Linked DNA regions of Homo sapiens: regions 1 and 2 are each linked to region 3. The links come from fine-mapping of genetic effects on gene expression. A gene starts in region 3. Each other region holds a variant in brackets. All regions are shown on one strand. Distances are from middle to middle.

Region 1 (4,234 bases), 110 kb before region 3:
TTAACACTGCAATCATAAGAGCTATTAAAAATGAAGTTTTTATGAAAAAGGGGTATTTTCATGTAACTACAATGATGGTGTGACACACAAAAAGCAAAACAAATGCAAACGTAAGTCCTGCAAAAGATAAGTACCTGCTAGTTTAATTATTATTAAAAAGAAAATGAGAAATAGCAGACTGAGAAAATGGAAGTCATGTAAGGATGGTCCGAAAGACAAAGGAAAGGGGAATAAATGATGTCTTAACATTGAGATGTTCACCTCAGCAGCAATTATCACTGGCAAATTCTGCCCTGACAAGGGGAGACACGGGTTGATATAAAAGGGCTTTTTCATTTTTACTTCCTAGAGTTTGTGAATAACTGGCTTCCCAGGTGACAATTACTCTGCTTCCTCCAAACACAATTCCCTACCCCCTTTGACCTCTTGCAGCACAAACACTTCAGAAATAAAAACCCCACTGGGCCCTCTGGTGCTCTTCTTTCTCTGAATTGCAAGTCTGGCCTTGATGGTCTGGATTTTGGAGGATGGAAATAGGAAGAGAAAGGCTGCATTTAAGAGAAAATCTCCTTTTCACAATTGGGTGGCTCTCCAATATCACCTGGAATTAAAATATATTTCCCTGCCACCCTGCTCTGTGAGACTGTCAGTCAAAGACCCAGACAAAGGATCACACGTTTTCTAAATCCACTTCCACCTGCTGGAGTACGTGATTGTCAACATTTGAATGTTCCAGAGGAAAGAAGGAGCTACTGATCGTCAGGAAGGTGCTAGCACGCTTGACTTTAGGATATCCATGGAGGCAACGTAGGGTATCATCATCTTCTTTCACTTAAAAATCTCTCCCCAGGGGTGCCAGAAATCTCACTACGATTTGTCTGTAGCATTGGGGTGAAGCAATGGGCCATATTTCTACTTTGTAACATCCTAAGAAGATATGTTCTCAGAAAGATGGGGCTAAACATTTCTCTTTTCCTAAAGAACTCTTTTTCCCTTTTTCCTCTTTTGAGATTCCTATATCATGGGGGTAGTTGTCATAATCAGTGACAAATACTCTAGCATGAATTAGTTTGTTCAAATTACATTTCTACAAGCACACTTTTATAAAATAACAAACAAAAGTTAGTTTTTGAAGACGCTAGAAATCTATTGGGGGAACGCTGGGCATAACTGCAAAGGTTACGAAAATTATAGGACAGTGCATTCATGACAAATGAATTATATAAATATAAAATTCTGCAGCAGTTTAGAGTAGGGGGAATCATGGAAAGCCTCTAGGAGGAGGCAGGACTTGAACTAGGAAAGATAAAATATAAGTGGAAAAATGTAGTAATCATCCAACGTTTTGTTACAGTCACCATTGGAACACTTTTCTTTGAGGGGATGATATCATCTGCGCTAATACTTTTGAAAAGTTGATCTGGAAGGCACCAGACCTGTTCTGGCTCATGCTACCAGGCTATCTTCCCTGCGTTCTCACAGGTTCCCCAGCCCTCAGCCCTGCCATTTATTCTACAAAGAGCACTAGAGGGGTTTAAAACTCTAATTGGATCCTAATGTGACTCCTCATTGGTTTCAGGAGAAAATTTAAACCTACACACCTAGTTTACAAGCAAGGTCTAGCTTCAACTCTCCCCCTCCCCAACACTGAATTTCAGCCATGTTCTCTCTCCTCCTGGCTTTGAATGGTGATTCCTCCCTCCTTCCCACCACCAACCTAGTTAGCTTGCGTGCATCTTTCCATCTTCATGCTACAGATCATTTCTTCCAGAAACCTAATCTGAACCCCCAGACTAGATCCCTTTCCTTTTTTTTTTTCTTTTGAGATAGAGTCTCTCTCTGTTCCCAGGCTGGAGTGCAGTAGCGCAATCTTGGCTCACTGCAACCTCCACCTCCCAGGTTCAAGTGATTTCCTCCTGTCAGCCTCCCAAGTAGCTGGGATTACAGGCGTGTGCCACCATGCCTGGCTAATTTTTCTATTTTTAGTAGATACAGGGTTTCACCATGTTGGCCAGGCTGGTCTTGAACTCCTGACCTCAGGTGATCCAACCACCTCAGCCTCCCAAGATGCTGGGATTACAGACGTGAGCCACTGTGCCTGGCCCCTAGATCCCTTTCTACTATGTGTCAGCACTGTTCAACCCAGTGAATCTACTGCTGACAAGTGAGTCACAGTCTCTGCTCTTGGTGGAGTTCCCATTCTGGTGGGACAAGACACAGAATCATTAAATAAACATAAATATATATGATAATTTCAGATGATGTTAAGGACTGTAATAAAAATAAAACAGAATGGCAGGCCAGGGAACAATGAACAGTGAAGGGGATGTGTCCTGCTTACATGAAAAAATAGGGAGTTTGGGGCCTTCCCACATGTTCCTCTTGTACCCTGCACTTCCCCATTAGCGGTAATAACAACTTAATGTGATAACAGC[C/CTTT]TTTTTTTTTTTTTTTTGAGACAGAGTCTCTCTCTGTCACCCAGGCTGGAGGGCAGTGGCATCATCTCATAGGTTCAAGTGATTCTCCTGCCTCAGCCTCCTGAGTAGCTGGGACCATAGGTGCGTGCCTGCATGCCCAGCTAATTTTTTTGTAGCAGCCATTTTTTTAACTGATTTTCTGTGCAAGATTAAAAATGCAGGGTCAAGGTCTATCCATTTCTTTATTTGCCTCTAGTTGTTAACATGCTGCCCAGAATATAGTGCTTGATAAGTATTGGTGGAATGAATGAGAGATTAGAAGGGAGAAAGACTTGGAATTTAAAGGCCATTATAGTTGTCCAGTTAGAGCTCATGAGGGCCTGGGCTAAGATGGCGTGACATTCAGGATAGAAAACAGAGGCTGGATGTGATGAGTGGTATTGTAGAGGAAATAACAACAGGAGCTGGTGACTAACTGGAAAAGGGAAGGAGATCAGGAGGAGTAAAGGACACCACCTTTTAGTCTTTGGACACAGGTTACAGGGAGAATGAGAGACAGCTAACTACTCATTAAAACCCATCTTCTCTGGGACACACAGTCAGATATTACCCAGCCTCCTTGGCAATTACACCATGTGACCAAGTTCTAGCCAATGAAATGTGAACAAAATGATGTGCGCCACTCCCAGGCCTGGCCTGTGTAAATCTCCACACAGGATTCTCAGTGCCTTTTCTCCTCTTGCCATCTGGATGTCAATGCTTGGGACTTCCTCAGAAGCCATGCACTGAAGATGACAGAAGCTCCCCTCACCCTGATCCCTGAATGGCAGTGAGAGCAGAGCCCACCCTCCCCTCATCCCTGCCCCCTGGAATTACCTTGAGCTATTTCTAGATCAAGAGATGTCTATAGATCAAGAAATGAATGGAAATAGGAAATTTAGGAGAAAAAGATGGTTCGGGTTTGGGCAAACCCAAACCACCCTAAAACGAAATCGAGAACACTGATCAATTTAGTTTTAGGAAGTAGAATGTGAAGTTTCAAAAATATTCAGTTGAAGATGTCTCAAAGGAAGGTGGAAAAGCTAGTTCAGAGTTTAGAACCAGGCTGGGGACATGATGAATAGAGATGAGGTCATTTGTTTAAAATGGGAGGAAGTGAGGTTAACAAGAGGGAGCGGATAGAGGGAACACATGGGCATAATCTCTAAAAATCACTATATTCAAAGATCAGGAAGAGCAGATGCCACAAGGGACAGAGGAGTGGTCTGAGGAAACCAAAATGGTGGACACTGAAGAACCAGAAACTGGCGTCCCAAATCCTGGGGCAAGGCCCAGGAGGAAGGGGGCTTGGGTATGGTCAGGGAATATGACACTGCTGGGGCCGGAAGTGGCCTCAGGGCCAGCGGTGGCATCAGAGCACAGTGGAAATAGAAACCAAATTGTACACTGGTGGCTTGACCCGTATGTGGAAGCCATCATATTGCAGTAGATCATTAAAAGCTACGTCTTGATTACCTAGGGGAAGTCGCAGAGTAAAGAAAAGGCTGTTCTCACCTTGAGGCTGGAGGGTCTTGAGGGTCTTCATTCTACTGAATGAAGCTGTAAGATGGAGAAGGAATAAGGAATGTGAAAGTCTCTGGCAGAGAATTTGGGAAGTAATAGTATGAAAGGCCTGAGTTAGGGATACATCTCTGTCAACAGAGGGACCCTTTCGTAGAAGGTTCTCCTTCATTGAAGGAGAACATAACTGCTTTGACTCCAATAAGGGTAGAGAAAGTGGGAAGGGGTTAAGGTGCCTGGCCTAGGAGCAGATGGCAAAA
Region 2 (4,234 bases), 32 kb before region 3:
GCATGGCCAGGGAGATCTGGTACATTTTTGACAGGAGTTGGAGGAGGAGGAAAAAGATGTACTATGCTTAATAAACTCAGGAAGTCCATGAGACAATCTCAGATGCCAAGCATCTGAACCTTGTTGCCTGCCTTCCTGGGTTTCAACATTATAAATAGGCTTGAGGAAGAAGACGGTAACACTGAATCTACCTCGTGGCAGAAAGGATGCATGAACCAGTGCAAGCATCCACCTTGGGAGACCTAGAGAGTGATTCCTAACAAGATATTAAGCATATGTTCACTTTTTCTTGCCTTTCATGACCAGGAAATATTAGGAGAGAAAGAATTTCATCTAGAAAATGTGGATAATCAAGTAGACAGTATGAGTGAAAATCTTACTGCATTTTTTTTAAGCTATTAGGTTAAAAGAAAACCCACAACAATAGCACACCCCAGAGGTACAATAGCATTACACATTACTGTCAGGATTGCTGAACTCCATGAAATAACCAGGGGACTACAACAAATGTTAAGACTGCATTGCTTTCCACTGTTTCTCACATCTACTGGTTGCTAGAGCTGAAACCAAGTTATATATTTCCCTCTGGTAATTTGTAAATTTTGAGAGACAATGCTGTGAAAACTAATTTAAATCTAAACAAACATGAAAGCTGAAAAATTTCTATCAAAACCTCTTCCATGTTTCTCTTCTCCTATTTTCAACAAACAAAGAAAATATTTGTTTGCATATGTTTCCTTGGGGAGGTGGGTGGTGAGGATGTTGGAGGGGGAGAAAGGAGACAAGATTAAAGGCCTGGGGAGAGGGTGATGTCTTTGAAATTACTTTCCCCAGGCACATGATGCAAAGCAGCCTCAAATACCCCTTTCATCTTCCAAGGATTCCTTAGTTGCAGTGCATAAAAGAAATTCCCAAAACAACTCAAATCTAAATTAACCATCAAAGTGAGCTTTAAAGTCACATAACCTGGGCAGAGCTGGTAGCTATGGCCCAGGCCTCACACCGCTTGAAGGAAGGCACTGGGTTCCCCTACACTTCCAACAACTTGGAAATGCATTTTCCTCATTCATTATGTCTGTGATCCTCAAAATTCAATGCGACCATTAGGGACATGATGGCCCATGCACAGAGAGGCTTCTCTAACTTGGTTTAGAGTTGTTTTTCCAGATGTTACTCTGCAGGACATACTGACTGGGAGTCTGTTGGCCTGGCCTCTACCCACAGTTGCAGAGAGCCCTTAAGAAGAATTGCTCACTATTACTTGGCCACTGGACTATAACTAAATTACAGCTTCTGAATAGTCAAGAGACAACACTGCTTATGCAGAGCTGGGGCCTAGAAGATGCTCCTGTATGCTATCCCCTCATCTCCTATGCCCTCATCTCCCAACCAGGCCCCTATTCAGGTTGGCACTCACTGGTGGAAATCCCACTTGTTACATACAGATTGAAAGCAAGTTCCATTAGATGGCCCTGCTTTGGTCATTACACTTCCACGGACAAAATGAAATTCACATCTTAAAGAGTCAATAAAAATAATCCTACCCATACTACTGGGAAGTGCAAAGGGCTGGATCTGCACTGAAAGTGAGATTTAAGAATGAGAAAATGCAGGAGAGACACTCCAATGGGAAAAACCCATCACATCCCATGACAATGGCAACCAGTCGGTCCCTGCTCCAAAAGGAGAGGACTCTAAGCAGTTCGTCAAGAGCCCAAGGACGTGGGAGGAGGCCTCTTTTCAGAGGAGTGATGGCTTCCTAAGAACAACAATGGCCCTGTCGCTTTTTCAGCTTCCCATTAATTTTCCATAAAGAGCAGTTTTCTTGACGAGCGCTTGTGTCAGGCAGGGCCTGATGCTTCAGAAACCTGTAATTATTCTTGGCTCCCCACCCCCTACAGCCTCTGCACCTGTGTCAGTTCAAGGCACCAGCTGGCCATGTCTTGCCTCCTGCCTCTTAAGAGGGGGAGGGGGGGAGCCATCATTGAAAACCCAAACTCACATTACTCGCCTCTTCTTCCAAAATGCAACAACAAAACAAAAATTTTAAACTCACCAATCTCATTCCTCCCCCCAGTGGATCTTGCCAAAGGAAACAAATAAACATTAATTGGCTAGAGAGCCCTCATTCAAACCAAAATTACTGAAAAACACAGTAACAGGGAAAGGTCTGACAAGGCATTATTAATCCTGTTTTACAGCCCGCTCTTATGCACCCCCACCCGCTCCTGTTAACTTTGCACACACACTCACACACCCTCCTCAAACTCCCTGGGCCCCTTTACACTCACTGGCCAAGA[C/T]GGGAACATGCCGAACCAGTTACATCATCTCCCCTTCCTCTCCCAAATCACTTGCACAGGCTGACTCGGGCTACTGGGATTTTTTTTTTTTTTTTTTTTTAAAGCAAACTCATTTCATTGGCTCCTTCCTGGAACACAGTCATCTCCTTCTCAGTTGGGTTAATTAATATACCCTTCCCCTACCCCCATAAAAAACACACAGACACATACGATTACTTCTTGTACTCCAAAGCACAGCTGCACACGTGTACAACGTTCTCTCTCTCCCTCGCAGCTTGAATTTCCCAAGAATAACAGGTTCAAAGCCCATTGGGCCCTCGGTGGCAGATGCAATTTAGTGGCTGGTAATCATAGAGGATGCTTTCAAAACGGAGAGCTTTGAGGAACTTCCACTGCGGAATGTTAAAGACAAGGTGGGGGCGCTAGGAGGAATGTTTCTTCTACTCAGAATGCATAAAATGGCAGCCAAAACCATAATGAAGTCAAGCCCTAAGCTGTTTTTCCTGATATGGATTGTTGTACTGTTACTTGAGATACTTGGACTTGATTTCCCACAATGTTTAAGGTGGCTGTGTGGGTGTGCCAAGTGCCACTCACTCCAATTAAAGAAACAGACTGGCCATTCGCATACTGAGAGGCAGAAGAACAGGGACCCAAGCATTGGCCCTGGAGCCAGACTGCCTGGGTCCAATATCAGGTTACACTACTCACTAGCTCAATCCCCCTGGGAGAAGTTAACCCCTCTGTGCCTCAGTTTCCTCACCTGTAAAATGGGGTAATAGTAGTACCTACAACGCAGAAGCATTGTGAGAGTTCAATCAATTGACATGCCAAGTACTTGGAAGGGCTGGGCATGCACACTCTGTATGTTGTAGCTATTCAATAACTAGTGTTATTTTTCATTACACTTCCAGACAGACATAAAGAAACCTATCGAGGGCATGGAGATGGAAAATAAAAAATACCAAATAAGTTTCCAGGGGAAGTAAACCTGTTGGATATAAAAGTTTAAGTAAGCAGGGGACTCTGAGTTGGGAAGATCAACCCTGACTAGCTGGGTGACTTTAACTTCAATGGGCTCAGTTTTCTCATCTACCAGCTGAACTTCCAGGGGCCCACTAATCTGGAATTCTATGAGGAAGCAAAACAGTAATAGGAGAGTGAAGACTGAACAGTAAGAAAAGCTCATTCAGAACAAGTTCAGAGGAACTGATAGATAGCTCTGCTGTCATTGAGTGGTTAAAAAAAAAAAGGGTTTGGAGAACCTGGAAGAAAGTGGTCTTTGAACCCTCCTCTGACAGGGACCTCAAGGCCTTTATTAAAAGCCCTAAGACACTCAATAATCCATGTTTACAGGATGCTATGAAGGTTTAATTTCCTGCTTCACCATGGATACAAGCCTCACAACATCTAAAACGTAAACTTCACAAGAATGTGACTCTTCAAAGATACCAGACCTGTGCCTGACTTGCAGCCTGCCTCAAGCATTTGTCAAATGAATGAATGAATGAATGAGTAATTGAATCAACTCCCAAACAATCAAAGTGAAAGTCAACAGTGATCACAATCCTGGGTAGGAAGAGATTCAAGAGTATCATGAAAGCCAGAAATTCTTCCTTCTTCACCAAAGGAACATCAGAAGCAGTGTGCATGTGTTTATTACCAACATTTCTGGTAGAACACGTCAGTATTTTCAGATTTAACTATAGGTGTTATTTACTTGTCTCTAACGTTTTTCATTTGGAAAAAAAAAAAATTAAATGCTTACTGTCTGGGACAGATCCGGATTTCTAAACAGAGAGGCCAATTTAGCTTCACGGGGTAGCCCTGAGAGTATGCACCTGTGTTGGAAGTAAAAGCTGTCTCCTTGCCCTGGAGAATGCCCTCTCCCTCTGCCACTTCCTCTTTTCTCCTCTGGCCTCCAGAAACCACCA
Region 3 (4,234 bases):
GTCAAGCATCTGCTAGCGTCCTTGGACAAGAATGCATGTGTGGACACAGAGACACCAGACGCCAATACCTGGAGGAAAACTCACAGCCTCTGACCAGAAGTGAACTAGCAACAATGGTACAGTTAAAGGATCCGCCTTGCCACTCGGCTCCTTATACCAAAAGCCAAACCTCTTTTGCTAAAGCAGAGACTGTTACATCTCAGCCTCAAGCTGGCAAATCCTGCTTTGGATCCCGGCAGAGGAAATTCAGCCGTTCATTAGCCTTAACAAGCTGCTGTCACTAAGCGAAGAAATTACACGAGCAGCCACACACCGAGCCTCTCACAGCCCTCCCCCCAAGGGCAAGCGGGTTTCTCCAGGACGGACTGTACAAGTTCACACTTCCTATGTGCAAATCCGGACTGTCTTCTTGGACTTTCCATGGTGCACACTGTACAATTTTTAAATACCCGTGTCCCCCCGCCCCCACCCACCATCTTTCCTGCAGAATGTCCCCTCAGCAGCTCCTAATCGCTGCTGAAAAAAACCACTGTTTCCGCAGCAGAGCCAGCACTTTCCACTGACCAGCACTTTCTTTATTCCACTTCACAAAGCCCAGTGAACTTGTCACCAGCCCCACTTCATCCTCCCTGGGACGGCTAGCCAACTTGGCATCGGTGCCCTTCAGCATCCTGGGAGTTTCTTAACTAGTCCTCTAAGACAAAGTCAAAGGCATGGAAGCACACATCAGCCTTTGTCCGAGGTTGTGCTGCCTAACTAGAGAAGGACCCTAAACAAAAAAGAGAAACAAGGACACGCATAGAGGGTGTTCTCTTTCTGGAGGGATCACACTGGGAAAACCTACAATTCATTGTCAGCCTCAGCTACATCTTCCCGTCCTCCTTGAGTATCTTTTGTCAGTGGGCTCTTCTCTCTTTTGCCTACCTTCTAATCTCAAAATCAAGCTCCTATTCTTTATTGACACTCGCTAATTACTGAAAAACACTCCGCTTTGCTCCTGCCCACCCTCCCCCGCCCCCCATCCGATGGTCATAAGCACCAGTTGAAACAGATGAACCTGATTTCAGGTATCAAGTGGGTAGAGCTCATGCATGCGAGAACGTGGTCCCTGTCAGCAATCGCTCCTAACACCCCAAACCACCTTCCCACCCGGCTCCTCCGAACCCCAGAAGTTCGGCAGGTCTCTGATAGGGGACAGCAAACCCGACAACGTGTGCGCAGGGATGTGTGTTGGCGACTGAAACGCAGGCAGCTCGCACCGGCTGCTCAGCTCGGCACTCTACGAGGTTAGGGGTGGGTGGAGAGGTAAGCGCAGATGACTGTTTCAGAAAACATTTTCAACAACAGACAGCCAAAAAGGAAGAAAAAAAAGTCAAACAAACAAACAAAAATTTCAACCCAGAGCCCACACCAACGCAGCCCCTGCGTCTCCGCCGCCACCACACGATTTACACAAGTAATTTAAATCATTCACCTGCTGCCAGGTCTCCTCCAGGGATGGTAAAGCTGAGAAGTAGCCGGTGTCGTGGACAAGTTGTAGCTCCTGGAATATACTATAACTAGCCAACACGTCCATGCTGCTGCTGCCGGGCAAAACGGGAGGCGAAACCCTCCCCCGAACACAGTTGGGGCTGTTTGTTTGTCAGTCTGTCTGGCTCACCCCCCAAGAAGGCAGACATCCAGTGGCCCTTTTGTTTTGTTTTGTTTCAGTCAACTAAAAAGGAAAAAAAAAAATCAATGCAGGAGAGGGAGAGAGGAGGTGAGAGAGGAGCGAGTGAGTGGGGTGGATGGAGAGAGGCATCCAGCGTGTACAGTGCAGACGACTGCCAGGAAAAGGGGACTTCTCCACGGGAGTAACAATTCCCTTCCAGGGCTCTAATCACTCCAGCTCGTGGATCAGGAAGGGGGATGCAAACTCACTGACACGAAGCTGCCATCTATTTCTGCAGCGCTGTTCGCTCCTAATGCAATCTTTGCTCTTTATTTTGGGAGGTTGCATTTTTTTCTCTCGCGATCGCTTCTCTTCCCCCCCCTTCCCTTCCCTCCCCACCCCCCACCCCATCCTTGCTAGTTTGTAGTCTTCCCCCTCCCTTTTCTCCTCCTCCTGCTCTTCCCCCTCCCCAAACTCCCTCCCTCCGTTCGGTTCTCCGCGCAGCCGTGGGATCTCGAGGAGGGCGTCCATTAGGCCGCGTGTGACCATGTAAGGTAAACAGGGGGCTCATGAAGTCACTGAGGACCAATGGGGAGCCCGGAGCAGAGCCTGGGGCGGGGCTTGGCCCTGGCGGCGGGCGCGGATTGGCACGCTGCGGATCTCCCTGCTGCCTTACAAGGCGGTGCGAGGCGAGCTATTTTTAGAGGGCTATATAAGGGGGCTGAGGCGGCCGCCCGGCGGCCGGGCAGCGCGAGCGCAAGGGACAGGGAGGGTCGTGGCGACACTCGCGCCAGCTCCCGGGACGGCTGGGCTCGGGCTGGTCGCCGACCTCCGACCCTCCACTAGATGCCTGGCAGAGCCCGGCGCGTCCGGAGCCCGCGCCCCTCAGAGGGAAGGGGTCGCGCGTCGCCGCGGCGGCCCTGAGGCTGACGGTCGGGAGGTGAAAGGCCGGAGTGCGGGGTCAGGACGCCTCCTGGAGGGGGCGCGGCGCAGGGGGCCGCGGGGAAGCCGCCGAGGGCGCGGAGCGGGAAGGAAGGACAGTGGCCACCCCGCCTCCGCCTGGGCACGGGGCAGGGACCCGCGCGAGGCGGTGCCGGGGAGGTCCTCACGTACTCAAAAACAAGCAGAAAAGGCATCCAGGGCCCCTTCCCGAACTCCCCACGGGCTGCCAGGGTGCAGAGAAGAAGCGCCTGAGGAGGAAGTGCCACACAATGGGAGAGAACAAAGGGGAGCGGAGCGAGACCGCGGCCTGCGCCCGCCCCCCGCTTGCGCACAGTCCCCGCCCCGCCCCGCGGGCGCCGCCGCCGCCGCCCTCCCTCCCGCGCCTCCTTCTGACCCCGAGCGAGAGACCTGGTCGGGAGTCCGGCGGCTAGAGTTGATTGCAAGGGGCCTGTTGCTCGACTGTGCGTTAAAGAGGCTAGAGGGAGCCTAGGTAGACGTGGGGCGCAAGCTGGAGCCGGCAGCTTGCGAGGGGGCCTTTACGTGATGAGGCTCACCATGGGGTCTCCAGCGAGGTGTCTGCAGAGCTTCGATGGTGAGAGGAGGAACTCGATTTCTCGTTTTCTGGAGTTGGGATGTAGACATAGAGAGATCTGTTACATCTGAGATGAAAACCCTGCACAATTCACGTTAGGGTTGGCCAATTGTTTGCTTGACCTTAAATGGTTAGTGTGGTTTAAGCTTCCCCAAAATGCGCTGTGAGCTGAGCTTCCACTTTTGGAATGATTGCAGAATTCGGTGCTTAAGAGATGAGAAACTTCGTTCTACCAGTAATGGAAGAAACGCTTCACCTTAATCACCCTCCTTGTCTTTCCCCTCCCTTTGACTATGTAGGACTCGATAACACAACATTTGAAAGATTCTACTCTATGAAATAAGCACAGATTGAAATTCAGTATTTGCCAAGGAATATTAAACATGAATTACTGGGATTGAGGAAAGCCTGATTTATTTACTTGTTAGTGTCTGGAATTCTGTTGGCCAGATTCATAGCATTCATTGTATGAGTATAATTGGAACATTTACTCTAATGTAGATGCAGATGCATCTGCAATTAGATGTGCAAGGACGCTGCCAGCTAACTAGCTGCACGACTTTGAGCGAATTACTGGGTCAGAACTTGTATCTACCCATCTCAGAAACAGAAATAGTGGGATCCGCGTTGTCTAGTTGTTATGAAGAGTCAAAATATCTTTGGTAACTCACCTAGCATAGTATCTGACACTATTAGGTGAATACTAAATATTAGCTATCATTGTCTCCCCACTTGAGCTATGTAAACTAATAGGACCTTTAGGAGAATATACTATTAATAGAATCTTGGAGATAGAGGAAAGGTAGAAACCCCTTGCTAGTTTGTTACAAGGTCTCCCCTTCTCCATGCTCTCCCCTGACCCCCATGCTATTTCAACTGGGGGGATGGGCAGGAACCATTGAGAAACACTAGGGCAAAAAACATGTTCATGAATAATAGGGGAAGGAAAGGAACTTGGGTATAGAAAACTAGAGGCAAAAGGTGAGGCAAGACCAACCATATAATTTGGTACTTGAGACTCAAGTGAACTTATTTTGTGTGTGTTACAT

Direction of the effects. Alleles are on the strand shown, and positions count from the first base shown. SD is a standard deviation of normalised expression in the study named. Not every link is listed here.
With allele T in place of C in region 2, the expression in fibroblasts of the gene that starts at base 1,956 in region 3 is lower (small effect, 0.16 SD a copy in GTEx).

Evidence for each region. PIP is the estimated chance that this variant, and not a neighbour inherited with it, causes the effect. A credible set is the group of variants that fine-mapping cannot tell apart.
Region 1: its variant is the best candidate, but not a certain one, in a credible set for the expression of KLF7 in whole blood (INTERVAL, PIP 0.59).
Region 2: its variant is the best candidate, but not a certain one, in a credible set for the expression of KLF7 in fibroblasts (GTEx, PIP 0.52).

The regions. Positions count from the first base shown.
Region 1 is chr2:207,049,389-207,053,622 of GRCh38, forward strand. No RefSeq gene overlaps it. Among named protein-coding and RNA genes, the nearest start is that of MIR2355, 59 kb to the right of the region's middle. The variant C/CTTT (reference allele first, on the strand shown) is at 2,436.
Region 2 is chr2:207,131,776-207,136,009 of GRCh38, forward strand. All of the region lies in intron 1 of KLF7 (KLF transcription factor 7), which reads right to left. Among named protein-coding and RNA genes, the nearest start is that of MIR2355, 24 kb to the left of the region's middle. The variant C/T (reference allele first, on the strand shown) is at 2,301.
Region 3 is chr2:207,163,993-207,168,226 of GRCh38, forward strand. It overlaps KLF7 (KLF transcription factor 7), which reads right to left and starts at 1,956. Exons shown (of 4, transcript NM_003709.4): 1 at 1,475-1,956. The coding sequence starts at 1,576. MIR7845 (microRNA 7845) reads left to right here and starts at 2,408; the gene lies at 2,408-2,506. RefSeq lists enhancers at 1-257, 258-966, 1,568-1,667, 1,675-2,383, 2,384-3,091 and 1 more and silencers at 2,158-2,797, 3,418-3,467.